7 separate regions of the Homo sapiens genome follow, and regions 1, 2, 3, 5, 6 and 7 are each linked to region 4. The links come from fine-mapping of genetic effects on gene expression. A gene starts in region 4. Each other region holds a variant in brackets. All regions are shown on one strand. Distances are between the middles of the regions.

Region 1 (4,212 bases), 66 kb after region 4:
ATCGAACAGAAGGTAGAAAGATTTCCCATATGTCCTCTGCCCCACACATTCATAGCCTCCGCCACTGTCAACATCTACCATCATATTGGTAGACATGATGGTAGATACATTGACACATTGTTATCACTCAAAGTCCATAGTTCACATTAGGGTTCACTCTTGTGTCGTACATTCTATAGATTTGGACAAATGTATAAAGACGTGTCTCCACCATTATAGTATCCGTGTCAGAGTTCCACTGCCCTAAAAATCATCTGTGGTCCACCTATTTATTCCTCCTTCTCCCAGGGTGACTCCTTTTACAAAATATTGAATATACCCTACCAATGGATTTATAATAGGTTTCCTTTAAATATCATCTCTCAATGCCTTTATTGCTTAATCTATTTCACATACTTCATTTACAAAAAAAAAAGGTTCATCTGGATACTACCAAGCAAGGTGTACATATATTTATTTATTTAATTTTTTTTTTTTTTTGGTAATAAGCCTCTTTAAAACACAGCTTTTGTTACTGCTAGTGAAATTTCAGTAAAGCAAATATCACTTCAGAACAAAACACCCTCCCCAAAATAACCCCCACCACAAATCTCCAAAACTCTGGTGTAATAAAGAGTTCGAAGCTCAGCCCCCATTTTTTAAAAATTAAAGAAATATGTAATGGGCCTACATTTTTGTACTAGAAAAGAATTGGGTATCCTTGAAATTTCACTGTAATGGAGTTTGACTTGTGAGCCATTTTTTTTTCTTGGGACTTTGACAAGGTCACCTTTTTCCTCATGGTTGGCATCTGGCCCTTTTCTGTGTGTTGTGTGCAGGGTACTTGTGTGAGAGCCACTCAGGTCTAAGGTGCACTGGTTTTGAAGGCAGGTCCCTTCTCTCCCTGCAAGGGGAGGAGGGAGGGTGGCCTAGGGGATGCCAGGAGCCCAGGGCAGCTCCTCCCTGCCTGAGCAATACAGTCAAACTATGTTTTGCTGGAAGGAGGCCTTGGTTTCTAATGTGAATTTGAGCTGTGTCCTCTGAATCATTTATGGAGAGGATCAGCTTGCTCTTGCCACACTCCCTTCTTCTATGGCTCCAGTCTTTGGGAGGCATTCTGTGCTCTAGGTAAGGCTCCTAGCCACGATTTTTAAGTACAGAGGCTTCTTCTCCTGCCTGCCGGAGAACTATCTTTTCAGCCAGAGACTGGCTGCAAAGCTTCCCTGTTTCCCAGAGGGCAGGGCTGGGAATTGAATGCTTGGGGAGCTCAGAAGGAGCCCCGGCAGGCCTTGGGCCTCTTGTTGCCAGCCCAGGTTCTGCTTTCTGAATCCTATTACCTGCCGTGGCCACCTGCTTCACTGCCCATGGGCTGGCATTACAGGGGCAAATCTAAACAAACCCGGGAGGCAGAAAGAGGGTGTTCTCTGTCCTCCTTTTCCCAAGTTGAAAAACCTTCGTAGCTCCATTTTATGTTGCCTGCAACATTTTAGAAAATGATAGGGTAGTAGAGCTGAATAGGTTGTTAGCAATGACTTATAAATATCCCTGTGTTATTACTACTTTCTCTGCTGGCAGGGTTTAGCCCGGGATCCATGGAATCCCCCTGCCGTCTGCAGACAGACTTCAGGGGCGGGTCAGCCTCCTGAAATGCTGGGCTGTGTTTGTGTGTTTGTGGCTGTGAGCATTTCTCAGGCAGGACTGTCATTAGATTCCCAAAAGGAGCATTAGGTTGTCAGGCAGGAGCATTCATTAGATTCCCAAAAGGGTCTAAGAATTTAAAAAAGGTGAAAAAAGGTGACAAACTACTGATCAGGTTTAAAGCCTACCCTCATCCCCAGTACACATAGCACTCACACACTCACATGCACACACGCACACACACAGAGGTTTACAGGTAAGGAAACTGAGTCTAGAAGAGGCAGACTGACCACCACTGAAGTGCAAGGCTGGGACTAGAGAACTCCTGTCCCTAACTGGTCTGGTGCAGCACTCTTCTGTTAGCCTGTGCACAAAAGAGGCCTGTTGGGCTGACTATGGGATGGCACAACTGCTTTAGAACACGCTCTGCAAGTTCTCTGGATGATGGGGCACAGGACATACATTCTGGCTAACTCATTTTGCACCTTGGGATAACTCTGTCTTTATAAGACTGACCTTTATTCATCTTTCTGCCCATGCTCCCACTGTATTTGTTGAGTGGGCGAACCTTAGTGGAGAGTACTGTACGGAAGACAGGTCGGTAGCTTTATGCAGCCAGTTATTTGAACTAAAGAATTATGAATCCTTCCTTTTCCTCCCACTTTGTTCCCCTTTCCTCACCCTCGTGACCTC[T/C]GATCTTAGGGCAGTTGTTAGCAGCAGGAAGTGGCCCAGATCATAAACCACTCCTTCCTTGCAAGCTACTTTGGCAGTTCATTAGTGACCTGAAAACTCAAAGCGTAAATGCTTCAGAGCCGAGGTAATTTTTTATAAAATAAGTAATTCTTATAAGGATAAAAATTTCTCCTAATTTATCTGATTTGTAAATTTGGATATACATTTTAAATGTTTGAAGGCACTTATTTATAACTGTTGGGAGATCTAGCCCTAATTTGGATTTATCTTCTATTTCGTTAGGATGTTATAGAATGATAATAGATGCAAATGAGATAGTTGTTGAATGCAGCAACTATCTACGATCTATGATCTCTGATCTGGGCTAGGTCCAGAGAGAGGGGTGGGTAAACGGTTTACATCTGGGCCATAGAGTTTGGAAGGCCTAGTGATAAGATATTTAAGTAACTTGGCAATGAAAGGAACATCAAAGAAAAGGAAAAATGTGTCAAATTAAGAGATACTTAAAGGGCTTTACTTGTTTAGGGAAATGAGAGATCAATTCAAGGTGTATCTGTCTAGGGATGACTTTCTAAAAGAAGTACATTTGTTCTGTCTTAGGTAGTTTCCTGTTTGGTAAAGATGAAAATGAAAGCATATTCTAGGAAGAACAATGCGAGAAGCTGGTGTGCAAGTAGAAAATGCCAACATTTTATTGTTTTAATTATGTTAGTTTTTTAAAAGAGCTTTTTAAAAGATTGCTATGCAGTGAAGTGTTAGGTGTATTACGTGCATTATTTAGTTTAATTCTCATGACACAAGGCCGGAACTATTGTTAACTTCACTTTGCCGGCATTATTGTTAACCTCATAAACCAAGGTTTGGAGTATGGACATATCTTCCTCAGGCTTGCACAGCCAGGATTCAAATTTAGGGCTGACTGACTCCAAAGCTACATTGCCACAATGCCATACTGTGACCATTAGGATTGCAATGAAGGTGTTGTGTTTATAAGAATAAAGGGAGACAAAACTTTATGGGATAGTTGCAGGATGTTTAATTCAGAATCTTAAGATAATGGGGAGATAAAACTTGACACAAATTTTTAAGGGAAGTTGCCATGTGTATTCTCTGAACTGGGTGAAGAACATTTATGTTGTGAGGCAGGGGTTCAATCCTATTAGGAGGTTTCTTCCAACTGAGAGATTCTGTGATGTTGCTTGAATCCTTTGGCAGAAACATGCATTAAGGCCGAATAAGTATCTCCATCCTTATTGCTGATGTATCACAGCAAGTGATACCAGGAGCCTCTCCTTCTAACAAACTCTTGGCATGTTTCTACAGGTTTAGTGCAGGAGACCATGTGTTCATAGCGGATGACCGTCTGTGAGCCTATCTTTATCTAGCTTTAGAGGCTGACACAAATGAGGGAGCATGCTGTAGAAAGTGCCTGTGATTTGGAACTGGCTGAACATGGGCTAGAATATCAGTTTCACCTTTCATCAGCTGTGCATCTCAGGGCAAAATAGCTAATTATCCTGAGCCCCAGTTTTCTGATCTGTAAATGGGGACATGTTTTCATTTTCTGAAAATCGAGTATGTCAAGTACTTAGTCCATCACACAAGTCTAGCACCTAATCCTGACAACATCATTATCCATGATCATCACCATCATGGTTTTACACTTGTTAGAACCTCTCCATACAGTTGTATTGTGAGGCTTAAATATCTCTTTCCTAGGAGAAACAATAAGGAAAAAAAATTCAGTCAATTTGACATGAGTACCCTAGCTCAAGGTCTCTCAGTAGGGGACAGAGATCTTGGACAATGGACTAAAAGCCAATTTACAGGATTGTCGTGAGTATTGAGTGAGAAAAAGGTTATGAAATTATTTTGTAAACTCATAAAGTTTGATTCAAATAT
Region 2 (4,212 bases), 90 kb after region 4:
CAGTGAGCCGAGATCGAGGCACTGCACTCCAGCTTGGGCAACAGAGCAAGACTCTGTCTCAAGAAATAAAAAAAAAGAAAGAAAGAAAAAAAGATGTAGTGTCTACCTGTTCAGAATATGGTAACACAGAATCAGTAGACTCATTAAAGTGTCACTGCTTACTCCCTTGTCAGTCCATCTGTGTAGATGATGAAGGGTTGTAGACAGAGGCCTCTGCAAGTGTGCTAGGATTCCTTTCTCAGTAGCTACCTGAGTCTCTTTATTAGGCTGGGCTCTCTGGTCTATATTAGTCTCCTTGCTCCACAGAATTTTAGTTACTTTATTTATTACTTTTTTTTTTGAAACAGAAGTCTCATTCTGTCACCCAAGCTGGAGTGCAGTGGCATGATGTCAGCCCACTGCAACCTCCGCCTCCCGGGTTCAGTGATTCTTGTGCCTCAGCCTCCCAGGTAGCTGGGATTACAGGCACCAGCCACCACGCCTGGCTAATTTTTGTATTTTTAGTAGAGATGGGGTTTTACCATGTTGGCCACGCTGGTCTCGAACTCCTGACCTCAAGTGACCCGCCCACCTCAGCGTCCCAAAGTGTTGGGATTACAGGCGTGAGCCACATGCCCGGCCTAGTTGAATTATTGTAAAGTATGTAACTAGCAAAGCTCAGAGGCATGGCCTTGCTCCTGTGTATGGGCCAGATAACTTTTCTCCTTTCCCTACCAGGATTTTCGTGATTAGATACCATCAGTCATTAGGAAGCCTTAATAATAACATCATTAATATTAATTATTAATAATTATATTAATTGTATTATAACATTATTAATTATTAATATTAATAAAGTTATATATAAGAGAAAGGATGTGGCTTGGTGCACAGTCCCTACCCCAGGGCAAGCTGGTGGAGGCCTTTGACTCTTTAAAATTTAGTTCCCATTTTCCATGGTGATTGACTCGATTTAAGTGCATTGTGGCTATATGTAATTTACAGGCTGCTTTACGTTGCAGGCAGGGAAAACTCCCAGGCTGGTGTGAGGCTGAACTGGGATAAGAGACCCCCTGGCCCCTCCTTATTCTGCTAAGGTCACCACCTCTTAGAAGGTCTCTTATTTTCTTTCAGTGATCAAATGCACAGTTACGCTCTACAACTAAATTCTGTAGTCTTGGGAATCCTCACCAGTATCAACTATAAGTTGCTTTTTAAAGCCCCCAAAGTGGAGTGAGGATAGGGGGAGTGGAAGCAGTGTTTGGTTCTTACTTTACCCAAACTATGTATAAAGAATAAAGTTAGCAGAATGATGCCACAAAAAAAAAAGTACCAGAATATTTTGTAATAAAATGCCTTTATAGTACTATAAAAACATAGAAAAGAATATTGATATAGTTTTGGGCTTGAGCATTTGGCTTTCAACTTTAGAGTTCTGAGTGTTTTTCTTTTTCTTTTTTTTTCTTTTTTCTTTTTTTTTTTTTTTGAGATAGGGTCTCACTCTGTTACCTAGGCTGGAGTGCAATGGTATGATCACAGCTCGCTGCAGCCTCAAATTCCTGGGTTCAAGTGATTCTCCTGCCTCAGCCTCCCAAGTAGCTGGGACTGCAGGTGCACGCCATCACAACTGGCTAATTTTTGTATTTTTTTGGGGAGACG[T/G]TGTCTCACTATGTTACCCAGGGTGGTCTCAAGGAAGTTCTGAAGGTCCTGTCAGCTGTAATGCCAAGTTTGGCAATGAGAAAAAGGTTAAGAACTAAAATGACTCCCTGTCAGGGAAGTTGCCTACACTCAGCTATTCTCCAGGATAGGCAGGGCTGTCCCGAGAGGAAGACACAGGTGACAAATAGCTCTCCTGCATGTGTCTTCAAGGCTGTGATTGGTTTTTAAAAATTGTGTTTGAAATTCTTCCTCCAGGTTGATTCCTCGTGCCAGACCATTATTCCTAAAATTAAGCTGGAGCCTCATGAAGTGGATCAGTTTCTAAACTTCTCTCCTAAAGAAGGTCTGTCTGCCCTCCCTGTGTCCCTTTGGGTTATGGATATGGTCTCTGGGTCTACAGAGAGGGAATATGGCGAGAGAGCTGGGATGAGTTTGTACCACAGATGTTGTAGCTGGCTTTATGAAATAGCTCTGTTCTTAAAAAATAAAAATTTTGCTTCCAAATAAAAATTTTGCAAGCTAACTATTATTTTCCCATATATGCACGTGATTAAATTTCAGCTAAGTGTTACCATACTTTTACTTCTAACCAGGGTGATATTTTTCAAAACTTTTATGGACTGCTACTACAAACACTATCGAACAAGAGAACTGCAGCCCTTATTCATCCAGGCGTGAACCCTACGTAGCCCCACAAATCAACAACCATCTACAAAAGCACCTTGCTTATTTCAAACAACTCTAGTTTCAACTCTTTGTGAAGTAAATTCACAATTAATTATGTGGCCAATTCATTGTTTGTAAACATTGACTTTGAATGACAACTATTGCAAGGAGCCCCCTCTCTATTTGGTCATGTTCATGGTTCACAATTGTGCATCTTTTTGGGCTTCTTGACATCCATCCATTTAGAATTAACACATCCTTGAGGTGATCATACTTTTTTTTTTTTTTTTTTGAGACAGAGTCTCACTCTGTTACCAGGCTGGAGTGCAATGGCACCATCTCGGCTCACTGCAACCTCTGCCTCCCAGGTTCAAGCGATTCTTGTGCCTCAGCCTCCTGAGAAGCTGCAATTACAGGCGTGCACCACCACACCCAGCTAATTTTGGTATTTTTAGTAGAGACGAGGTTTTGCCACATTGGTCAGGCTGGTCTTGAACTCTCAGCCTTAGGCAATCCGCCTGCTTCGGCCTCCTGAAGTCCTGGGATTACAGGCATAAGCCACCACGCCTGGCCAAGGTTGTTATATTTCTATATTTATCTTTCTCTATGTCAGTTTCTTTCTGAGTTTCTCCCTCTTTGTTCTCCTATGAAGCCCATAGTTAGGAATCCTGGATGCAGACCCCTGAGCCTCATGAGGTCTAATGAAGCTCTCTCTGCCTTGCGTATGCAGATTCTCCGGCATACATCCTGCTCTTCTCACTTCTGTGCCTTCACTCATGCCATCACTTCCCTTTTCATTCATACTTTTTATTTATTTATTTTTTGTGTGTGAAACAGGGTCTTACTCTGTTGCTCAGGCTGGAGTGTAGTAGTGCCATCATGGCTCATGGCAACCTCAACCTCATGGGTTCAAGCGATTCTCCCACCTCAGCCTCCCAAGTAGCGGGGACTGCAGACATGCACCACCACGCCCAGCTAAATTTTGTATTTTTTGTAGAGATAGGGTTTCACCATGTTGCCCAGGCTGGTCTGAAACTCCTGAGCTCAAGTGATCCTCCCATCTTGGCCTCCCAAAGTGTTAGGATTAAAGGCATGTGCCACCTCACCCGGTCCCATTCATACTTTCAGTACAAATTTCAAAGTACAGTTCACTACTGTGGTCAACAAATAAGAAATTGGCTTATACAGTTGTCACCGAAAAGGTATATTTGCTACGGTATATAAATGTGAGGATGTTTACATATGAGCACTTCTCATGAAAATATCGTCTGTCTTCATTCCATTAGAAACTAACTCAGGATTTGGTTTGTAACAATGTAATCAGGGCTGGCCCTTTATTTGCCTTTATTATCAATAAAGAAAGGATTAAATTTTAAAAGTTAATAATACTTAGTGAAATAATACTTAGTAAATAATACTTATTTACTTAGTAAAAGTTAATACTTAGAATCCATATTGAGACACTATGTCTTTGCACTGAGTGACAGACAGTAGTGCCTTTCAGCTTTATGTACTGCTTCAAAGTAATTGCTTTCGTTTGTATAACACCAGTTATTACTATCAAATGCATCTTACTCTTTTAATTTATGCTGTGATGTGGTTCAGAAGTGTCATCACCATAACAATGAATCCCATAGTGGCTTCTGAATCCAGGGTTATTGGAGGAGAAATGTTTCAAGAATGAAGTTAAGGACAGCCCTTCCTCATTATCCTGGATAAACTGAGATAAGGAAATTCAATATCCTTGACTGCATCAGTTTCTAGGCACAGTAGCTTGTTGTCCCCAGACCTTGCAGTAACCCAAAAGCAGCATTTCAAATGATATTTAGAAATCTGATCCTGAGGTGCCTCTGGCCAGCTCTGTAGCTCTTAATAGATAGGAAAGACAAGATTTTACTTGCTTCACTT
Region 3 (4,212 bases), 150 kb after region 4:
TGCCATAAAGAGCCAGTAACAGAACCTGGAGGTGAGGGTGAATTAATTAGTTCTCTAAGGGACAAACTTCAACCAGTTTCAACAGGAGACAAGAAGACATTGGCAGAGAATCTCCACTCTCTCCTGTGGACAGAATGTTTCTGGATATAATGATGTAGGTCCTGTCTGGAAGAAGTGCTGGTGACCAAGAAAGCAGGTATGTTGTTTTGTGATGCTGTAGTCATTCATAACTCGCCACCTTGAATTTACTTTCCCCTCCTTTTCAGCCTTGATTCTCTTTTTCCTTCATTCTTGAGTCCTGGAATTACAACTTCACATAAAGTCTTGGCTTGTAAGTTTTGCCTCAGGATCTGTTTTCTAGAAAACTCAGACAAAAACAAACACAATACAAAAATATGAACCATAGTTCAGGAATTGTGCTCAGGTTCATGGAGGTGCTCAGGTTTCTGCCGTATATTCACAGGGGCACCGCAGGATATATTAAAATTTTGAAAGAAACTCAGAGATACTTGACATTTGTTAGACACCATGCATACTACTGACTCAATGTAGTTGATAGTTTCAACACTAGATTACACTACATTCTTTCAGTGACATCATTATGTTTGCAAAGCTGGGTTTTGGTGGTTGCAATTTCATGTGGTATTAAGGAGCAATACCACATGAAAATTAGTGTGGAACAGGAAATGAAGGTGGTGGTGTCTAATATGATCCTAAGATTTGAGAGGTTGTGTCATGCCCATTACTATCCCATTGGTAAGTGATTGTGGCTGCTTACAAATGAAGTACAAACATTTTTTCTTTCAATTTATGTTTTTTTCAAATAGCTACTAATGTTGTCAAGAAGTAAATGTTTATTGAATTGTTAGCATCTGAATACTTAATAAACATAAGTGTTAGGTTCATCTTCATAAATCTCAGCCTAGAAGTGCCAGGAAAAATAATTACTGAGACATTCAGTAAAGGGTGGTGTGAACTGAGAAAGTCTGGGAACCTCTGAGGTAGAGCTTTACGGGCAGGCAGGAATAAGCTCAGCATGTGATGTGGTTTGGCTCTGTGTCCCCACCCAAATCTCATCTCGAACTGGAATCCCCATATGTCGAGGGAGGGACCTGGTGGGAGGTGATTGGATCATGGAGGTGGTTCCCCATGCTGTTTTCAAGATAGTGAGTGAGTTCTCACGAGATCTGATGGTTTTATGAGGGGCTCTTCCCCCTTCACTCTCTGCTCTGCCTCTCCTACGGCCATGTGAAGAAGGTCTTTTCTTTCCCTTCATCTTCTGCCATGATTGTAAATTTCCTAAGGGTTCCCCAGCCATGCAGAACTGTGAGTCAGTTAAGCCTCTTTCCTTTGTAAATTACCCAGTCTCGGGGAGTTCTTTATAGCAGTGTGAAAATGGACTAATACAGCATGTATGAGAAATGGGATGTTAGGAGAGCTGAGTCAGAAGGTGAGGGACTGCAGGGATGGAGGAGGCACAGGAGAGACCAAGTGGGGCCTTGTAGGCTTTGACAAGAGAGCTCAGTTATCATTTCTGTACAACATGATACATCCTGGAAACTTAATCCTGGAAACTTCTTTTTCTTTTTTTCCTCAGTGACAACATTTTCAAAAGCTCTATTATCTTTTCCTGGTTTTATACATAACTGAGGTCTCCAATGTGTGCATATGCATGTTTAAATGTGTCACTTTTTAAAAAAACATTCTGTGTTATTTCTGGAAAATTCCTGAAATTCCTGAAAACTACATACATTTAAAAATGTTAAATATAATGTTCTCATTATTATCTGGTCTTGCAGTCTTATCTAGACTTAAATTTTTTTTCTTCTTTCTTTCAAACTTCACATTGAAGCCCTTTTATCAAGCTCGGCATTTAGGAGACTCAAGGTTGGTATTTAAGACTAGGATGACACCTGTTTTAGATTGAACAGTAATTAATAATAGAAAGGTG[A/G]GTTAGGAAGCTCACCAAATGGGGCATGGCTTTGGGCCCAGTCATGGAAATATTGTCCATCTGAGGTCTGAGATTATACTTCCAGGTCCAGACACTGGATGTTTCAATATACCCAGAGATGCTCATTTTCTTGGTTATGTACTTATGTTACTCAAAATCACATGCAATGCAGTTTCAAAGCAGAATGTCAATTTATTTTTGTGATTAGAATGCTTTTGACCCATTTTCAAGGATTCCACTTTTTAGTGTCAAGGAAACTAAGAAGCAGGATGAATAATTACAAGGTTACTTGGTGATCGTTGAAAAATAGAAAGGAAAATAAATTGTCTAAGAGAATGACTAATATTTTAAGTAACTTCTCAGGAGATCACCCCACAACAGAATTCATTTGTCTTTTGCTGGAATTATTTGTGCTTCCCAAATGTCGCTCTGTCTTAAGTTAGAGTTAATGTTCAATGACTGTTTTTTTAAAAACCCAATATTCCTCTGATTAGCAACCCATTAATACACTATTTAAACATATAAATACACACTTGAGAGGTCCAGCTGGCTTTTCTGATAGGCTGGGAGACATTCTGTTGGCATGTACTTATTGAATCAGGCAAAACCTCAAGACTCTAGCTAGAGCCATTCAACTCCGCTTCACTGTGACCATTTTCTTATGTATCCTTCCAGAAATATTATATCTCTATAGATCTTCTTTTCTCCATAAATGATAGCATACTACTAAATACTCTGAGCATTGTTTTTCTTTTTTTGTTAACATTATATATTTGAGATTGTTTTATATTAATGAATGTTAACTTGCCTTATGTATCTTGACAGTTCCAGAGAATTCCATTGTTTGGATGAATAACAATTTAGGTTGTTTTCAATCTTAAATCCTTGTGTATACCTACAAGTATATCAGAGGACGAATTTTTAGAAGTGAAATTGCTTAGTTAATTAGGTCATGCATTTCAAACATGGATAGATATTGTAAAATTTACCATCAGAGAGATTTTACTAGTTAAAGTATATCAAAAATTTGAGGAAGCATTTGTTTTCATACCCCCTCATCAATACCATCTATTATCAAACTGTTTGTTCTGAAAAATGACGTCTTTCATTATGTTCACAACGATGTATATTTCTTTTCTCAGTCAATAAACACTTCATGATGGTCTATGATATACACACTTATGCAATTATGTTACCTGTTTATTATTACTGAAGATATAGTGATAAACAACATATAGCGTTTATATACATGTGGGATAAATAGACACATGACAGTTGCAGTGGTCCAAGTTTAGTACAATGGTGCAATGGGAGCTATGGGAGGTACGTCCATCACAGTCTAGAAAGGGATCATCAACGGAGGCTTCTAGTGGGGAGAAACATGGGGAGAGACATGTAAACTAAAATCCGATGGAGGTGTAGAGTAGTTGGCTTGGCAAATCTTAGGAAAAGGAGAAGCAAAGAAGAGGAGACAGCAGACTCACACGTGCAAAAATGGGAATGGAGAGAGCAGAGAGCGTGTGGGGTTTGCACAAAGAACAGTTCAGAACCTCACTGTCATGACAGTATGAAGGGAAAGCGGGCAGTACTCCACCACCCACCAATGTAGCCCTCAAAATCAGCTGAGTTGTTTGAACTTTACCCTAACGGCAATATGACATAATCAAAAGATTTTTAAGTGGAGGCGTGAAAAATCAGAAGTATTTTGGGGCTCACACTTGAGATTGGATTGGGGAAGATACGGCTAAAAGTAAGTGGGAGTAATGAGGGGGCTGTCCCAGTAATTGGGTTCAGATGACATTTGCTTGATTTTAGGGATGTACGAGATATTCGTGGATCTTGTGTTGAAGCACCTAATACACGATGTCCCTTCTGAAGACGGGTGCATTAAACTGGGGTGAAGCACAAAGGCCACTGAGCAGCCTGGCTTGACTCCTGGCTTTGCCAGTTTGCATTTGCACGTGTCCAAGCCCTTGAGAGGTGCTGTGAAAACATAGAGGTGGATGAGGGAAGTGCTTATACAGCACATACCGTATAAAAAGAGGGCTTCATACTTGCTAGTTGTTTTAATTTTTATTATTACTTTTCCTCGCTGCACATGGAAATGTCTTTACCTTTGTCTTATTATAAGGTACATACGAGGAGAGTTACAGAACATGGGTGTTAGAAGAGATTTGACATATCTGTTCATTTTCCTAATTTTAGTGATGAGAAAATAAAGGGAAAGAAAGCAATTTAGATTTTTGCCAGTATTACAATTC
Region 4 (4,212 bases):
AGGAGCCATAATCTTTTTGACATCTTCTCGTTTTTGGCATATTCTGTTAGAAGAAAGTCCTCAGGTCTAGCCCAGACTCAAGAGGAGGGAATTACACAAGAGCGTGAGCACCAGGAAGTGGGATCACTAGATGCCATCTTGGAAACTGGCTACTACATGGGGTATAAGCAGGATTAGACTTTGTCAAAAGCAGAAATGCTTCACGGATAAATGTTTGTATTCCTACATTAAGGAAGAGGTACAGATGGTTCCTGACTTATGACTTATGATTTCCTGACTTTATGATGGTGTGAAAGAGATATGCATTCAGTAGAAGCTGTACTTTGAGTTTTGAATTTTGATCTTTTCCCGGGCTAGCAATACGCAATATGGTATTCTCTCCTGGTGCAAGGGAGCCATAGCTCCCAGTCAGCCACACAATCATGACAGTAAATAACTAGTACTGTGTTGCCAGATGATTTGGTCCAACTGTAGGCTAATATAAGTGTTCTGAGCACATCTTAGGGTAGGCTAGGCTAAGCTATAATGTTTGATAGGTTAGGTATAGTAGATGCATTTTTGACTTACGATATTTTCAATTTATGATGGGTTTATGTGGATGTAATCCCATTGTACATTGAGTGACAGATTAAAAAAATAAGAAAGGTCTTTAAAAATGGAAAGAGCAATCTATGGAAAGAATGTGATGAAGGGGATACCAGGCTGGAAAAGAAAAACCAAGAACCTAAGAGAAAAATGAGAAAACTATTATATAAGGAAGGTGTGTGCCCATAAACTAGAGCTTCTATTTAAGCATTAAAATAATCTCAAAAGCTGGGCGTGGTGGCTCATGCCTTAAATCTCAGCACTTTGAGAGACTCAGGAGAGAGGATTGCTTGAGCCCAGGAGTTTGAGGCCAGCCCAGGCAACAAAGTGAGATCTTGCCTCTACAAAAAATTTAAAAATTAGCCGGGTGTGGTGGTGCACATCTGTGGTCCAAGCTACACAGGAGGCTGAGGCAGGAGAACTGTTTGAGCCCAGGAGGTGGAGGCTGCAGTGAACTGAGATCGTGCCACTGCACTCTAGCCTGGGTAACTGAGTGAGACTGTCTCAAAAAAAAAAAAAAAAAAAAAAAAATCTCAAAAGACCCCAGAAGATAGGACCAGACAAATGCAATAGTTTATATGATAAACTGCTGCTTTAAAGACAACATAGAGTTCAAAGACATTTGTCTCCACCCGCCAAAAAATACTTGCCAAGGAAACAACACAATAGCTAATACCTGAATGTGCCATTGTAAGAAACTTCTAGAGCTAACTGGCAAAGACCTGCTTTTATATTTAAGATAGGTAAACTATATTTTTGGAATTAAAAAGGAGGAAGAAGAATCACAGTGTTCGGGGGAATTCCTTTAGAACAGGCCATCTCTTCCCTATTCTAGGAGGCAGGCCTGGTGCTCTGGCCCTGGCTCACCTTTCTGGCCTTTCCCACCCCTCCCTGCCAAGCACCTCTGCTGCAGCCACACTGGCCTCCCCAGCAATCACGTGAATACCAGCTTCCCCCGAAATCTCATTTCCTTTAGGAAGAACTTCCCTGATCAGCACGTAAAATAGCATCGATCTTGACGCATCCTGTTTTCCTGCTTTTATTTTTCTTTATAGCAATTTCCACTTTCTGAATTTAAATGTTTATTTCTTTGTTTATTGCCTGACTCCTCTGAGATAAAAGCTCTATGAATTCAAGGACTGGGCTCACTTCTGTAGGACCTGGAAAAGCATGCCATTGACTCTTATCAAGCAGATGAAAGAAAAACATACAATAAGTGAAGTCCATAAAAAATAGAAGAACCCAACAGAAAATGGGCGAAAAAGGTGAAGAACAATGACAATTTCCTAGAGCTGCACTAATATAAATGTATGTGCATGAGGAATATTTGTATTTTTGTATAATATGTAATCCATTAAAAAAATTCCGAGAGATTCAAATGAACTAAAGTACTCGAAAATGTTTAAGCCCCCCGCGCAACAACTCTCGCGCCCCCTGTCGGCGCGCTGGTAAATTTCTGAGGATTCTCAGCAAGAGGACTGAACTCACCCTCCCTCTTTTACAAAATGTATTCTTGTCGCTATTTCATTGGCTGTACCTTTCAGACGCCCCTTTCACATTAGTCAAGCCTCCAGTCCATCACTTCCGGACCCAAGCCCTCTATTGGTCAGCTGTAGGCGACAGCAGACAGCGGGCCGCGCTCAAGCAGGAGGAGTTCCTCGGTGACGTCACAGACACTCCCCGGCTACATTCCAAGGCGTGGGCGGAGACTTCCCGCGGCCTCTGCCTTTGGGGGCGGGACAAAGCCGAGAATGAGACTTCTGATTGGGTCTGCTAGGCAAGGCGGATATCCAATTGGTCAAGCCTTGGAGGGAGGTGGGGCCGCAGCTGGGTCCTGGAGCAGAGCCGAGGAGCCCTGGGGTCCCTCAAAGTTTGTGTCTGGAGCCGTAGCGGCAAGTGGGCTTGCGGCTAAGGGATTTTCCTGGGATGAGAGCGGGTCTTCTGCCTTCATTTTGGATGCACATCCCGCTTTAGCCCCGGCAGCCTTTGGTCCGGCTCGTGTCCCTGGGGATTCTCGGATCTCCGAGGACACCGGACGGGAGCGCTTGGCCATCCTCTCTCCGGCAGAGGAGCAGACGTTTGCTTTCCAAGTGCAAAACTACAGACACGCGCGCGCACACACGCAAGCACACGCGGAGAGAGAGGAACCTTGCCGGTCCGAGGCAGCTCTGCGCGTCCCCTCCTGCGCTTAGCATCCTCGGCCCAGCGCGGCCCGCACCGCCATGGAGGTGCTGGAGAGCGGGGAGCAGGGCGTGCTGCAGTGGGACCGCAAGCTGAGCGAGCTGTCAGAGCCCGGGGACGGCGAGGCCCTCATGTACCACACGGTGAGGACCCGGCGGGCGGGGCAGGAGGGCTTTCAAAGCGGGCAAGTGTTGTCACGCGAGGAGCAGCTGGAGTCCTGGGACCCGGGAAGGCAGGGTTTGGGGCAGGGCATGGTCAGAATCAAGAGGTCCTGGGCGAGGTGTACTTTAATGTCTGAGCAGATGAAGGCGGGCAGCTGGCCCCTTTACATTTCTCATGAGAGTAATGCCACTTTGTATTCCTTTAACAATTCATGCTTTTTTCCCTGAGGCTTTTTCCATCTGTAATATCATTTGCTGTTGTTAACAGTACTGTAATGCGGGAGAGGGAGTGTGTGTTTTGAGAATAACATGCCTCCGCCTAGTTTGCTATTGATTTTTTTTTGAGGTTTTCAAAAACTGGACAAGATTAAGTAGCATTTCCTTTTCATCTGTCTCGTATTCTCTCTCCCTCTCTCCCTCCCTTCCTCTTCTTTCATATTTATATTTTAAAAAGTACACGTGTGTGTGTGTGTGTGTGTGTGTGTGTGTGTGTGTGTGTGTGTTGAAAGGGCTCCTCTACGTTAGGGAGAAAGGCGGCTTTATTTGCTTTCTTAAACTGTACGACCAAGAAGTCTCCTTCCTCCCTCTTCGGAGGAAAAACCAGCAGAGGAGTATGGAAAATCTGAGACAGTTGCATATTTAAGAAAGGCTCTGGGGAAGGTGGGACAGCTCACCAGTTGCTTGTTCAGTCTTATACTAATGCCTCAGAGATCTCTTGGGGGATTAAGCTGTCCCAGAGCACGCACATTTCTTTTAAAGTTTTTAATGTCAAGTTTTTGGTATTAAGTTTGCAAAATGAAATTTTGTTTTCAATAGCCAGCACTGATCATAGGACTTTATGCAAGATCTCTTTGTTTGATTCTTATCCATGCAGACGTTTGTAATGGGGGTGGGGCTGGGGTGAGGGGGGACACTAATGAGAAAACCACTGGAGGCTTGGCTGCTTCCCCTTCACGCTTTTTTAATGGGGTCAGTACCAAGATATTTGAAACTTTCGCAAAATGGCCTGCAGGCTCCACCTCTTTGGCCTTTGACTCTGGCTGACGTTATTTTGAGACAAGGAATGAGGGCCTCCCTGCTGATTCCCACCGAAGTATTTGTGGTGGCTGAGAGTGGCTTGTTTAAAAAAAATGCAGAGTGCAGGGCTGAGAGGGAGTGGTAGTTCATGCTGGGGCAAAAGCCAGATGTTCAGTGTGATCTTCTGGGCTTTGCTTGCTGAGCTTGTCATGGGGACACTATGTGGGCAGCACGGAGGTTGGGGTACCAGATGTGCTTCCTGTCCTCA
Region 5 (4,212 bases), 95 kb after region 4:
GGAGTGAAGCGTTTACCTGCAGTTATCTCCCTTGGCTCAGTAGCAGTGGCTGGTACAACAGAAATGTGCACTGTTCAGAAAGAACAGTGAGACCCAAGAGTGCTTTCATTCACGTGGAAGCCTGGTTGGATTCCTCCTTCAGAAGCCCATCTCTGCTGCCCTGGAGATGCCTGATGGACGCTGACCAAGGCTCCATAGGCCCTGGCAGAGAGGGTGTTGTGCCTCCTTGAGGAAAGACGCGGGAGACTTTAGAGGAGAAAGTCCCCCCACTGCACTCTCACTTATTTTTCCTGTGCTCACTCCCGTATCTGAAGATGGATTTCATGTTTTCTGAATGAAGAATGCCTGGCGTCTTGCCTGCGGGCATGACCACGCACATTGCTCCAGAAACAAACCGGCTTTTTTCAAAGCAGCCACTCCGGCTTTTTGAGATGGATTCTCGCTCTGTCACCCAGGCTGGAGGGCAGTGGTGTGATCTTGGCTCACTGCAACCCCTAACTCCTGGGTTCAAGCAATTCTCCTGCCTCAGCCTCCCAAGTAGCTGGGACTATAGGTGTGTGCCACCACACCTGGCTAATTTTTTTTGTATTTTAGCATGATCTCGGCTCACTGCAATCTCTGCCTCCTGGGTTCAAGCGATTCTCCTGCCTCAGCCTCCTGAGTAGCAGCTGGGATTATAGGCACGTGCCACCACGCCAGGCTAATTTTGTATTTTTAGTAGAGATGGGGTTTCGCCATGTTGGTCAGGCTGGTCACAAACTCCTGACCTCAGGTGATCTGCCCACCTCAGCCTCCCAAAGTGCTGGGATTACAGCCATGAGCCACCTTGCCTGGCCCCTGGTCGCACGTTTATTGGTTTCTTGTATTCACTTCCAGTGTTTCTTTCTGCCAGTATAAGCAAATGTGGGTCTATATCCTCTTTCTCTCCTTTTTCATACAAAAGGAGGACTCCCATATCCACGCTCTGCACCTTGGAGATCTGTCCAGGTCAGCTCATGGAGGCCCCTCACACTTTAGTTTGCTATGCCACAAATCAGTTGTGTCCTGCTTTGTGGCTCTGGGATGGATGAGATGTGCTTCCTTTTTTGCAGCCCCAGTGGACCACCTGCATTTGCCGCCCACCCCTCCGAGCAGTCACGGCAGTGACTCAGAGGGCAGCCTGAGTCCCAACCCACGCCTGCACCCCTTCAGCCTGCCTCAGACCCACAGCCCCTCCAGAGCTGCACCCCGGGCCCCCTCCGCCCTCTCCAGCTCCCCTCTCCTCACGGCTCCTCATGTAAGTATGCAGCGGGCATTCCTGGACCAAAGGGAACCCTCTCCATTCATTCCCCTGGGGCTGTATCCAGAGCAGGACCACTCAAGGCTGTTTGGTTTTTACTTTTGTCAAGAAGTTTCTGCTTAATGGCGAAAGCAGAGTGATGTCAACCCTAAAGAACACTTTCTAGGAACTGCCCGCACATCTCACCTTTTACTACCACAATTCTCTTCCTTTTCACATGCACACTTCCAGTTTTTATTCATATGTTTATTTTACAGAGCTATAGACATGAGGAATAAAAATTTGGGGTTTTTCTCCTCAAAGTTCTATCATAAATATTTGCATTAATTTAATGGTCCTTGTGACCTATGTCATAGGAAATACCTTTTATATTTTAAAGAAGCAATTTTTGGTGAACTTAAAAATTACTCTGAGATTAATTTCTTTGATGCCTAAAGGTCAAAAACAGTTTAAGCCTTTTCTGTGTGTCATATGACTCTTAACCCAGAAACTCAGATCAGACATCAAGACCCCTCGTTCATCCCTCCCATACATGAGGACACCATAATAAAGAAGAATAGATCGTTAACTCCTTATTGTTCTAGGAGTGAATTGATTTCTATGAAATTTTAAAAATTATAATCAGCTATTTTGAATTCACAATCTCACAACTAGAAAATTTAAATGAAATGAGATGTTTTAAAATTCTGTAAGTACCATCCGTCCATTAATTAACATAACTTTGAAAATTTGTATTGATTCTGTCCCTGAAAGTTCTAGATCTGCAACCACATTCTTAAATTTCATCGTTACTGAGGACAAGGGAATTCACCCTTCCACTCTTTCTTCACCTTTTCACCTTGAACCTGACTTCACTCCTTGGATTACTAGAATAGCTTGTATCCTATATACCTGTGTGTACTACTATGATCTGTCCATTCTACATGTTTATGGAGGAACTCTTCCCCATGTCGGATGCTTGCCCAACAACTATGTTGT[A/G]TTTCCCTGTTACTTGTTGGTACCAAGCCCTGACACCTTTACTCATTATCAGGTATCCAACCCTCCGCTGCTTCAAGAACTCCTTACCCACACTAGGCAGTGGCTTCTTCAGTGACTTTTCAAAATACTGCCTTTTGCTTAGAATGCACTCCTCTCTCTTATGTAAATCATCCCCTTTCTTTCAGGAGGCCCAATTCAAATCTCATCTCCTGCCCTAAACGTTTCCTGATCACACAACTCATAGTAGTGTTCTCTTACTTCAAATTTTTAGTACACCTTTAGCTAATGTATTAGTCCATTTTCATGCTGCTGATAAAGACATACCCGAGATTGGGCAATTTACAAGAGAAAGAGGTTTAATTGGACTTACAGTTCCACGTGGCTAGGGAAACCTCACAATCATGGTGGAAGGCGAGGAGGAGCAAGTCATGTCTTACATGGATGGCAGCAGGCAAAGAGAGAGCTTGTGCAGTGCAACTCCTGTTTTTTAAAACCATCAGATCTTGTGAGATTCATTCACTCTCACAAAAGCAGCATGGGAAAGACTCACCCCATAATTCAGTCATCTCCCACTGGGTCCCTCCCACAACACGTGGGAATTATGGGAGCTATAAAATGAGATTTGGGTGGGGACACAGAGCCAAACCATATCAGCTAAGATTACAGTTTAGCATTTAATTACTCTTATCCTTTCATGGGTATCAGTTCAGTCTCACAGTCTTGATCACAAGCTGCTTGAGAGGTAGGGTTTGTTTTGAGTCCTCCATGGCATTTAGTATGGAGCTAAAATGCAATAGGGACTCTGTTTGATTAATTATAAACATGCCATTCTACTGTGGGTTCCATGAGATGTGCTACTGTTCTTGTCTTCATTGTTGATGGACATTCTGAGACTGCTGAAGCCAGAGGCTTCTGTGGAAAGAGTCTGCAGATGTGTCCCTGGGTGCTCTGCACTCTTAGCTAAAAGTGGAGGAGAGAATTGACTCCTGTTGTGTAGAGAGCACCTTATAAAACTGCATTTTCAGAAGGAGAACAACAAAATTCTTGCACAAAGCAGGGCTGCAAATGAATCCTTCATCACTCCAAGGCCAGGAAATCTCTAGGGATGTGGGAAATGACTTCTCTGCTTTTTCTTTTCATGTTTTAGCGAGTAGGGTGCTTCCCGGGAAATAATGGGTGGAGGCTTCTTTATTCTTTCCCTTGAATTATAATCCCTAGGTTATAACACTCACATGGGGGTGTCTTCCCCATCTTCCCATGCCCTTCAAAATACCCATCTGTCACCCAAAGCAGATGGGGCATCCTTGTCTCAGAGCCTTCTGTAAGACATTGTAACAGATTCTCATCATCCCATTGGGAGGTGATTCTTCAGTGGTCCCAGTTCTTTTTCTTTGACCCTTTTCTGCTCCTTGGTCTGCACAGAAACTGCAGGGATCAGGCCCTCTGGTCCTGACAGAGGAGGAGAAGAGGACCCTGATCGCTGAGGGCTATCCCATCCCCACCAAATTGCCCCTGTCAAAATCAGAGGAGAAGGCCCTGAAGAAAATTCGGAGGAAGATCAAGAATAAGGTGAGCTCTTCAAATCTAGGCACTTCTAGAGCAGAGACGAGCAGAATCGAGTCAGCATCCCTTTCCCTGCCTTCCCAACGGCCAGCACTACCCCATCCCATGGTGGAGACCAAGGCCCAGCCCTTCCCTTCCCTAAGCCCTGGGAGGAGCACCCTCACCACGTGCCCCTCTCTTCCTCCAGCCCATCCCATCCCTCTTGAGGCCAGCAGACTCCCAGATCAGTATCTACCTCTTTGGTGCCCACGATGATACATTTACGGGTGGGAGGAAGCTATTAGAATTTCCATCTAGTTTTTTTTTTTTTTTTTTAACTCAGCCTTTTAAATTTTGGGTGTATGATATATACAATAGTTTCCTCTAGTAGACATATATATGTACTCTATGTA
Region 6 (4,212 bases), 30 kb after region 4:
TTCTCATTCTGTAACTGTCTCTTGGGCAACACTCCAGTTGGCATCTCTATCATGATGGGCCCATAATTTATATCTTTAGCCTGGATCTGTCTCTAAGACCTGATTATCCAGTTGCCAGCTTGTCTCTCCACTGGACTATCTCAAAGGTTCCTCACCTTTCACAGGCTCTACCCCAAACCTGTTCCCTATCTCCAGCAAATGGTGCAGTCAAACATTCACTGGGGCAGGCCAGGCACCTAGGAGCCGTTCTTGATGTCATTCTCTCCTAACTTGTATCCCATCTGTCACTCAGTCCTGTGGCTCTTCCCTCTTGAATAGCTTGACTCCATTCACTTCTTTCCATCTCCTTGGTCACCTCATTAGAACTGAGCTATCCCTGTCTTTTGCCAGGACTATTGCAGTAGCCTATTAACAACTTTTCTCATATCTGTTCTCCCTTCTCTCTCTTTCGTGTCATCCCCAAGTTTAAGAGAAATCTTTTCAAAGATTTCTTCCCTGACATCTGATCTCTTCCCTGACAATCTGCGCTCCATCCATGAGTCCCCTTCCCCTTTTTAAGATCTTTAAATACATTTCTTCCTGCCATGGGGCCTTTGTACATGCCGGTTGGTCCTGGTTGGAACACTCTTTTCACCCTTTTCCCTTTGCCTGGTGCTTAGCCTTCAGATTGTGCTCAAGCCTTAAGGAAACTCTTCCTGCTTTTAGAGATCTGTATTCCTTTATTTCAGAGGGGTTATAATATTTCATGTTTTTGATTCATTATTTTGATTGTTTCACCTTTTCTCTCCCATTATTGTAAGTTCCAATAGAGCAAGGGTCTCTTTGCTTTTCATCACCGTTGTACCTCAGTACCCAGCTCTCAGGAATATTTGTTCAATGAATGAAACCAATGGGGTAGGTAGGACAAGTATTTTTATTCATTTTCTTTTTACACAAGGAGGTTGATTTTTTTTTTTTAAAGAGCAGATGCTTGGCATTATTTTATTTCTAACTTTATAATATGGATATTTCTGCCTCTGATAGGTTCCCTGTGCCATCATTTCTCGGTCTTGGCTCGTTCCAGATTCACTTCAGCAGAGACAATGATGAGCAGTTATTGGTTTGGAAATACTCCCCAGAACATGCAATGCCAGCTCATAAAATGTTTTCAGGTTGTTGGAAATCTTGTGAAAACGTGCATAGTTAACTATTGGAGAATTTAACTGTGAATATGAATGGGGGAGCCATTCATCAGAAGCCCTGTCTGAATAATTGATTAAACAATGCCAGGAGGTGTGTAAGAGAAGGATTTGAAGACTGAGTTGTAAAACTATGGCTGACTAGTAGGGTCCCTCTTGGCAGTCTCACTTTTTTGCCTCGTGGCATTAGGCATTAGTGTCTCAGATCCATCATAATAAGTCTCTGGGCTTACTAACTGTGATCTTGTGTCGGATGGGCCCTGTGCTGCTACCTTCTTGACTTTAGGATATCTCTTGTTACCTTTTTGCTACTTGCTCCCACCAAGGAGCACAGCAGACTCCAACTCACTCTAGGTGAGCTTTCCTCTAGCTCCCGAGGGTCATGTGCCTCTCCATTGTGTTCAAAGAGAATAGGCGCCGGTGGGCCGCTGTCTGGGAAACTCTGTGTTCCTTGGTGCGGTACTGAACCTATTTAGTTAAACTTGATCAACTTTAGCACACCCTCACCAGGAGTGTGTGGATTCTCCTTGGGACCCAAGTCTTCCGTACAAGGCAAACAAGTTGGAATGGGGACTTCTATGATTAAGGTCATCGTTAGTTGAAGAATTTCAAACCATTTTAGTTTTTCATGATATGCTATTTCTTTTTTTTTTTTTTTCATTATTATTACACTTTAAGTTTTAGGGTACATGTGCACAATGTGCAGGTTAGTTACATATACATGTGCCGTGCTGGTGCGCTGCACCCACTAGATATGCTATTTCTTCAATTTCTCATGTGGATTTGGGGTGTGTGTGTCTGTGTTCTCTCATGTGTAAATATTTTCATAGAGGCCCTGAAGCTTCTTTCCTATATAGGGATTTGGGGACATTCCCCCAAACAAGAGGACTTTGTTACCAGGGTGTCCATTCTGGGGCCTTGCTGGTATGAAAATGCTCCCTGGGTTGATCCACAGTGTATTTATTCATGAATGTTACAGGTGCCTTAGAGTTTAGTTCCCTTAGGTGACTGTGGAATTTAAAATAAGAAATCAACCTTTATCCTAGGTTTTTCTTTTTCTTTTCTCTCTCTCTCTCTCTCTCTCTCTCTCTCTCTCTATATATATATATATATATATATATTTTTTTTTTTTTTTTTTTTTTTTTTTTTGTAGAGAC[G/A]GGGATCTCACTGTGTTGCTCAGACTGGTCTCAAACTCCTGGCCTCAAACTATCCTCCCACTTCAGCCTCCCAAGTAGCTGGGATTACAGATGTGAGCCACCAAACCTGGCTTCCTTTTATTTATCAAGAAAAAAATACTGTTCTTATTGTTCATTACAAAAAGAGTATTACCTCATTAAAGAAACTAAAAAACAAGCAAAAAAGACATCTCTCTGTTTTGTTTTGTTTTGTTTTGTTTGAGATGGAGTCTTGCTCTGTCGCCCAGGCTGGAATGCAGTGGCATGATCTTGGCTCGCTGCAACCTCTGCCTCCTGAGTTCAAGCAATTCTCCTGCCTCAGCCTCCCAAGTAGCTGGGATTATAGGTGTGCACCCTACTCCCGGCTAATTTTTGTATTTTTAGTAGAGACGGGGTTTCACCATGTTGGCCAGGCTGGTCTCGAACTCCTGACATTGTGATCCGCCCGCCTCAGCTTCCTAAAGTGCTGGGATTACAGGCCTCCCAAAGTGTTGGGATTACAGGCATGAGCCACTGCGCCCAGCCAAGACATCTGTCAAAAGCTCATTATGCACTCCCGAAACTGCTGTTAATTTCTCTTGTGTTAGAGTTCAGATTTTTTTTATGAATACTTCTTTTACATAGCTATTAATAAAACATATTCATATAACTATTGTGCCATGCCCTTTTGTATTTAATAATGGACATTTTCCTATTTTAATACTTAGCCATTATTTTTTTTTTTTTAAGGAAGTGAACAAATGAAAGAATGGCTACTCCATAGACAGAGCAGCCTATCTATCACTTTTTAATGGCCGTGTATTGTTCATTGAGTGTATGTTTTGTAGGTTCTTAAGTGACATCCAATTATTAGGATTTTAGGTTATTTCCCATTTTTCCCTCTTTTAAATAAGTTGGCTTAATGTTTAATTAATAGTTTTAGAAAAATGGAAAGAGCAAGAATATACATTAGAAAACAGACCCTGGCCTTTTTTTTTTTTGTACCATCCAGAGAAGTTAATGATTAAGGTAAGAACTTATGATAAGGTTATTTACAATGGGGAAAGAGATCCAGGGGATTCGGGTTGCAGAGAGTAAGGACCGGTGTTTTGTGTGCACTCACACATCACAGCCTAGCCGCAAAAAGATCAAGTTCTGCGGTGTCTGCAGTGTTGCCTTAGTGTCCTTCATACAATGTCTCCCCCCATCCAAAATTTTTTTTTTTTTTTTGAGACGGAGTCTCGCTCTGATGCCCAGGCTGGAGTGCAATGGCGCGATCTCGGCTCACTGCAAGCTCCGCCTCCCAGGTTCACGCCATTCTCCTGCCTCACCCTCCCGAGTAGCTGGGACTACAGGCGCCCGCCACCACACCCGGCTAATTTTTTGTATTTTTAGTAGAGATGGGGTTTCACCGTGTTAGCCAGGATGGTCTCCATCTCCTGAACTCGTGATCCGCCCTTCTTGGCCTCCCAAAGTGCTGGGATTACAGGCGTGAGCCACCACGCCTGGCCCCAGTTTTTTTTTTAAACATAATTCTGACTCTGGAAATAAGTAGGCACCTTTAAACTCTGTGTAGACTTGATTTTGTTTTTTCTTGAAGTTTGTGTGTATCTCTTAATATGTGTGCTAACTTAATTTAGGGTCTAGGTTCATGCTGATGTTGGAAGCATGCCATTCTCCAAGCTTTTTAAAAATATGGATATTCTTAAGTATCTCACACTGAGGCACCCAGCTATAAAGTAACCGTAGTGTAGGTAGGTGCACACTGCATAAACACTTCTTCTGTAAGCTGGAGAAATAGCTGGAGGAGAAATCTGTTCTTAGAACAAGGCACATGCTGTTGGTTCCAGACATTCTTTTTAGTGGAGGATACAAAAGTG
Region 7 (4,212 bases), 110 kb after region 4:
AGTGTTTGTTCCTGGGCCAGTAGGTAATATAGCATTTCAGAAATGCCCTCTGGTTCCTACAAAATAAAGAAGCCTCTTGTAATGTAGCAATTAACACAGGAAGAAAAAGGAGAAAATTTATACGCTTTTTTTTTTCATTTAGGCCAGAGCCCCATGAACAACCTTCAAAACTTAAGTAAAAGGCCATAAACATATAGGTATTTACTCAAGGTTTAGGAGTTTGAGCTGATATGGTTGTCTTTTGTGTATGACACACTTTAGTATTTAAATGTCTTTGAGATTGTTCATGATTTTCCTTAAATATCCTTATGAAATGTGTAGAACTTATAATTATTAACATTGTATCCCGCCACCTCCCTGCCCTCCATCCCAGGATTTTGAGGTAGAGGTTTCAGCTGTTGGACACCCCCTTCTCACCTCAGAACCTCCCAGGCACTAACTCTAGATGTGACTCGGGTGGGGTGGGAAGGGATTCAGGGGGGATTTTGCCTCAGAAGGACATGGATGCTCATCTCTTCCATCATGAGGTCACCTGATCATCACCTGAGTTTTGTTTTTTTGAGATGGAGTCTTGCTCTGTCACCCAGGCTGGAGTGCAGTGGCGTGATCTCGGCCCACTGCAACCTCTGCCTTCCGGGTTCAAGCGATTCTTGTTCCTCAGACTCCTAGGTAGCTGGGATTACAGGCACACACCACCACCCCTGGCTAATTTTTATATTTTAGTAGAGACAGGGTTTTGCCATGTTGGCCAGGCTGGTCTCGAACTCCTGACCTCAAGTGATCCGCTCACCTCAGCCTCCCAAAGTAGTGGGATTATAGGCATGAGCTACCGTGCCTGACCAAGTTGTTTTTTTTTTTTTTTAATTGTGTGCATTAGATAAGTAACACTCAGGCTTTTTTGATTGTACAATTATTTTACATTTTATGTAGTGTAAATGGCACACCAGACTACCACATGAACATGTACATATACATCATACACCTCACTAATATGAATGCTTCACAAATCGATAGTTCTTTACAGCATACAATGCCCTCTGATATTGTGTATTCTATTTGACTCCATTTCATTAAAAACATATATCAGTCACAACCCAATTGATTTCACAAACCCACAAATGGTTCATGATTTGGAATTTGGAAATGACTGCTCTAGGTGCTTCCATAAGGCTGTGAAAAAGTTCCTTCATCTCTGAAGGAGGCTGATTTACCCAGGGAATAGTTTACACACATACATATGGGCACACACACACATATGTGCACCCGCACACACCACTCCCCAGAGAGTTCCATTTCTAAGATGTGTTGTAAGATTTGATGGAAGTATGTGTGGCTGGGTGTGGTGGCTCACACCTGTAATCCCAGCACTTTGGGAGGCCGAGGTGGGCGGATCACCTGAGGTCAGGAGTTCAAGACCAGCCTGACCAACATGGTGAAACCCCATCTCTACTAAAAATACAAAAAAAATTAGCCGGGCGTGGTGGCATATGCCTGTAATCCCAGCTACTCAGGAGGCTGACACAGGAGAATTGCTTGAACCTGGGAGGCGGAGGTTGCAGTGAGCCTGGATCACGCCACTGCACTCCAGCCTGGGCAACAAGAGTGAAACTCCGTCTCAAAAAAAAAAAAGAAAGTATGTCTACAGAGAGGGCCTAAGTTGAAGCTCCCAACACAGCAAATAATTGGGAACCACCACTTTTTTTTTTCCTGCTCCTGGTTTCTGACTCCAGTGGGAAATTAGGTTCCTGAATGTTCAAAGTCCAACATTCAATAACTGTATGACTGTTCTCATTCTTTCTTTTGTAAATAAGGAAACACACACAAAAAGCAAAATTAAACCAAAGACAAAGAAAACATGAGACTGTTGATGCATTTCCCAGTTATTGTAAGATTGTGTCTCCCACTCTTGGATTCTTTTGAATGTTTTGCCCAATTTCCTTTGATATGCCTCCCAAGATACAGGGTGATGGTTTATTTTGGGCAAGGCTGACAGCTGCTTTCCACTGCTCTTTTGCAAGGAACTGCATGAGGATAGCCACTGAGTTTATTTTTACATCTCACCACAGGACAAAATCCACATTTTCAATCAAGTGTTGGACACTCCAATTTAACAAATTGTGAAAAATCTGTTGGCCCAGATAAACGTATGCTAAGAGTATTCCTTTCTCTAAATTAAGATTTTGTTCCCGGAAGCCCAAGAATTCATTAAGGCCATAATTAGCCATGATCACTGATGATTTAAAATACAATAATAAAGAGGAAGTTTATACTGAGCTTCATAGGCACCATTGGATCTGTCCTGCGGTTGACTTTTTATAGCTGTAGTTTAAAAATAACTTTTCCATTTCATCTGCTGGCTGTCTTTTCTCCACCCAGCCCTTCATGCAAGTAGGGTGGGGGCTGTCATCCAAGCTCCCATTGCTGCAGGCAGTGACATCTGTCTCAGTGACATCAGAGAAAGTGCCACATCATCTCAAACCAACATATCAGTTA[C/T]GAGGTCACAGGCTTTCCCATAAAAAGGACTGGCCTCATCTGTCATCAGTGAAAAGAGACAGCAAGCACTCTTCAAAGATGTATTTGCTTCAGCAAACGCAGAGTTACCCTGGGAGGGGGCATTTTCTCATTATTCCATGAGCTGATGTGGTCAAGGGAATTCATCTGAGTAGCTGCCTAAACTCAGAACTTAACTTGATTAAAGGCACATAGCAGTCATCCTCTGATTGAAACTCAGGTGTCTTTGCCTTTAGAGCCAATCCTCCTGATATATATATGCATCAGCTTAGCAATTCTAAAGCCATCTCATCAGCTTTTTTGGTGTTTCACAGAGAGACAGGTTTTATATTTTCCATTTTTCTAAATAAAGCCCAGGCTTGACTTCCTGAACCTTAACTAGGCAAGAAGTACCCTTGATTCTTTTATCTATTATCTGCATTTTATCTTTGATGTATCCAGAGAAAATACCACACAATATTTATTTGCCCTGATGGTTTTTGTGTCATTGTTACTGAAATTTTGTTAGTATGCATCTCCTTGCCGTCAGAATGGGTTTTATTGTGGCTCTTCCGTCTATGGCTTAGTCTCTTTTAATAGTAATATTTTCATATTTAATGGTGGACATATCTCAGTTGGGCTGGTGTCAACATAATATTAATGTTACTGGAGTTAAGAAAAATCTACTTAACTAAGACATGCTTTATTATTAATTTTAGTAGGTTATTGATTAGGGTACCATGCTGTACCATGTTGGAATGTACACAAGCTATGGGGTCAGATAGGTTTTGGTTTACATCTTAGGTCCTCTACTTATTAGCTACGTGACTTTGAGATGCTTGCTTAGTATTTTAGCGTATGTAGTTCTTGGAACTCAAGTAGTAGGCACTCAGTACTCTGTCATTGTTCATTTTCTCTTTTTATGATGAAAAGGAGTGTTTCTGTTGTATGGATGTGTGTGAATTTCCCAAACTCTATTGGATCATAGAAGTCTGTTTGGATTCTGGGGATGACTGAGCGAAATGCCTCAGTGTTGCTGATTGATGGGGCCTTGCACATGTTGTCATTTCCACCATCAGTTCCGTTTACTTTCTCCAGCACCAGTAGGAGAAGCAATGGCAAACAGCATATTATTAGTCACTGTTGCGCTTTCCACCAACATTTCGAACTAAAAATGTGTATTTTAAAACACATGTTTGCTCATCTTAAAGAGTTAGATTATAAACTGTTAGAAATCAGGGACTATTAAACAACCATTTTCATTTGCAGTGGATTCAGAATATAGTCATCTTGAGTTGGGAAAGGATGTGTCCGTGAATGCCAAGCAAAGTGCTGTGCAGTCAGGAAACACCAGCCCTCTCTGCTCTCTCCAGCCCTTCTTGAAGGGTCCTTCTTCCCAACTTGTAGCACTTTACACCTGTGACTGGGGAATGGGGGATTCCAATTTGAGCCTAAGATATTCTTTCAGTGGGCTTCAGGTGTAGCTGGCCTGCTGAAAGTCTGTTTTCAGGAGGCACTGGGGAGCCTCCTAGGAGACTGTTCATCCTAGGGGAAGGGGTACAGGGCCCAGAGATATCAACCAGAAATTGGAAGGGAGGACTGATTCCTTGTGTGGATTTTTTTTTTAAAGCTATTCATGCTCTAAGGACTAGGCAAGGGGTAGGGGATGGGCAGGGAGGAAGTACGGGCTGGCTGCTGGTCAATAGGGATTGTTGGTAAAAA

Direction of the effects. Alleles are on the strand shown, and positions count from the first base shown. SD is a standard deviation of normalised expression in the study named. Not every link is listed here.
With allele G in place of A in region 3, the expression in iPS cells of the gene that starts at base 2,427 in region 4 is lower (moderate effect, 0.64 SD a copy in iPSCORE).
With allele A in place of G in region 6, the expression in subcutaneous fat of the gene that starts at base 2,427 in region 4 is higher (small effect, 0.31 SD a copy in TwinsUK).
With allele T in place of C in region 7, the expression in skeletal muscle of the gene that starts at base 2,427 in region 4 is lower (small effect, 0.33 SD a copy in GTEx).

The links. PIP is the estimated chance that this variant, and not a neighbour inherited with it, causes the effect. A credible set is the group of variants that fine-mapping cannot tell apart.
Region 1: its variant is the best candidate, but not a certain one, in a credible set for the expression of CREB3L2 in whole blood (TOPMed, PIP 0.82).
Region 2: its variant is the best candidate, but not a certain one, in a credible set for the expression of CREB3L2 in whole blood (TOPMed, PIP 0.61).
Region 3: its variant is the best candidate, but not a certain one, in a credible set for the expression of CREB3L2 in iPS cells (iPSCORE, PIP 0.61).
Region 5: its variant is the best candidate, but not a certain one, in a credible set for the expression of CREB3L2 in whole blood (INTERVAL, PIP 0.64).
Region 6: its variant is the best candidate, but not a certain one, in a credible set for the expression of CREB3L2 in subcutaneous fat (TwinsUK, PIP 0.84).
Region 7: its variant is the best candidate, but not a certain one, in a credible set for the expression of CREB3L2 in skeletal muscle (GTEx, PIP 0.82).

What each region holds. Positions count from the first base shown.
Region 1 is chr7:137,934,092-137,938,303 of GRCh38, reverse strand. The region is part of intron 1 of CREB3L2 (cAMP responsive element binding protein 3 like 2); the gene reads left to right. Among named protein-coding and RNA genes, the nearest start is that of CREB3L2-AS1, 17 kb to the left of the region's middle. The variant T/C (reference allele first, on the strand shown) is at 2,311.
Region 2 is chr7:137,910,760-137,914,971 of GRCh38, reverse strand. It overlaps CREB3L2 (cAMP responsive element binding protein 3 like 2), which reads left to right. Exons shown (of 12, transcript NM_194071.4): 4 at 1,894-1,981. Among named protein-coding and RNA genes, the nearest start is that of CREB3L2-AS1, 40 kb to the left of the region's middle. The variant T/G (reference allele first, on the strand shown) is at 1,639.
Region 3 is chr7:137,847,990-137,852,201 of GRCh38, reverse strand. No RefSeq gene overlaps it. Among named protein-coding and RNA genes, the nearest start is that of DGKI, 3.1 kb to the right of the region's middle. The variant A/G (reference allele first, on the strand shown) is at 1,952.
Region 4 is chr7:138,000,301-138,004,512 of GRCh38, reverse strand. CREB3L2 (cAMP responsive element binding protein 3 like 2) reads left to right here and starts at 2,427. Exons shown (of 12, transcript NM_194071.4): 1 at 2,427-2,909. The coding sequence starts at 2,808. LOC124901752 (a long non-coding RNA gene) reads right to left here and starts at 2,206. Exons shown (of 3, transcript XR_007060551.1): 1 at 2,123-2,206. RefSeq lists enhancers at 2,128-2,177, 2,408-2,477, 2,568-2,657, 2,206-2,803, 2,748-2,887 and 2 more.
Region 5 is chr7:137,905,316-137,909,527 of GRCh38, reverse strand. CREB3L2 (cAMP responsive element binding protein 3 like 2) reads left to right here. Exons shown (of 12, transcript NM_194071.4): 5 at 1,092-1,276; 6 at 3,680-3,826. Among named protein-coding and RNA genes, the nearest start is that of CREB3L2-AS1, 46 kb to the left of the region's middle. The variant A/G (reference allele first, on the strand shown) is at 2,258.
Region 6 is chr7:137,970,800-137,975,011 of GRCh38, reverse strand. All of the region lies in intron 1 of CREB3L2 (cAMP responsive element binding protein 3 like 2), which reads left to right. Among named protein-coding and RNA genes, the nearest start is that of CREB3L2-AS1, 20 kb to the right of the region's middle. The variant G/A (reference allele first, on the strand shown) is at 2,336.
Region 7 is chr7:137,888,998-137,893,209 of GRCh38, reverse strand. The region is part of intron 8 of CREB3L2 (cAMP responsive element binding protein 3 like 2); the gene reads left to right. Among named protein-coding and RNA genes, the nearest start is that of DGKI, 44 kb to the right of the region's middle. The variant C/T (reference allele first, on the strand shown) is at 2,494.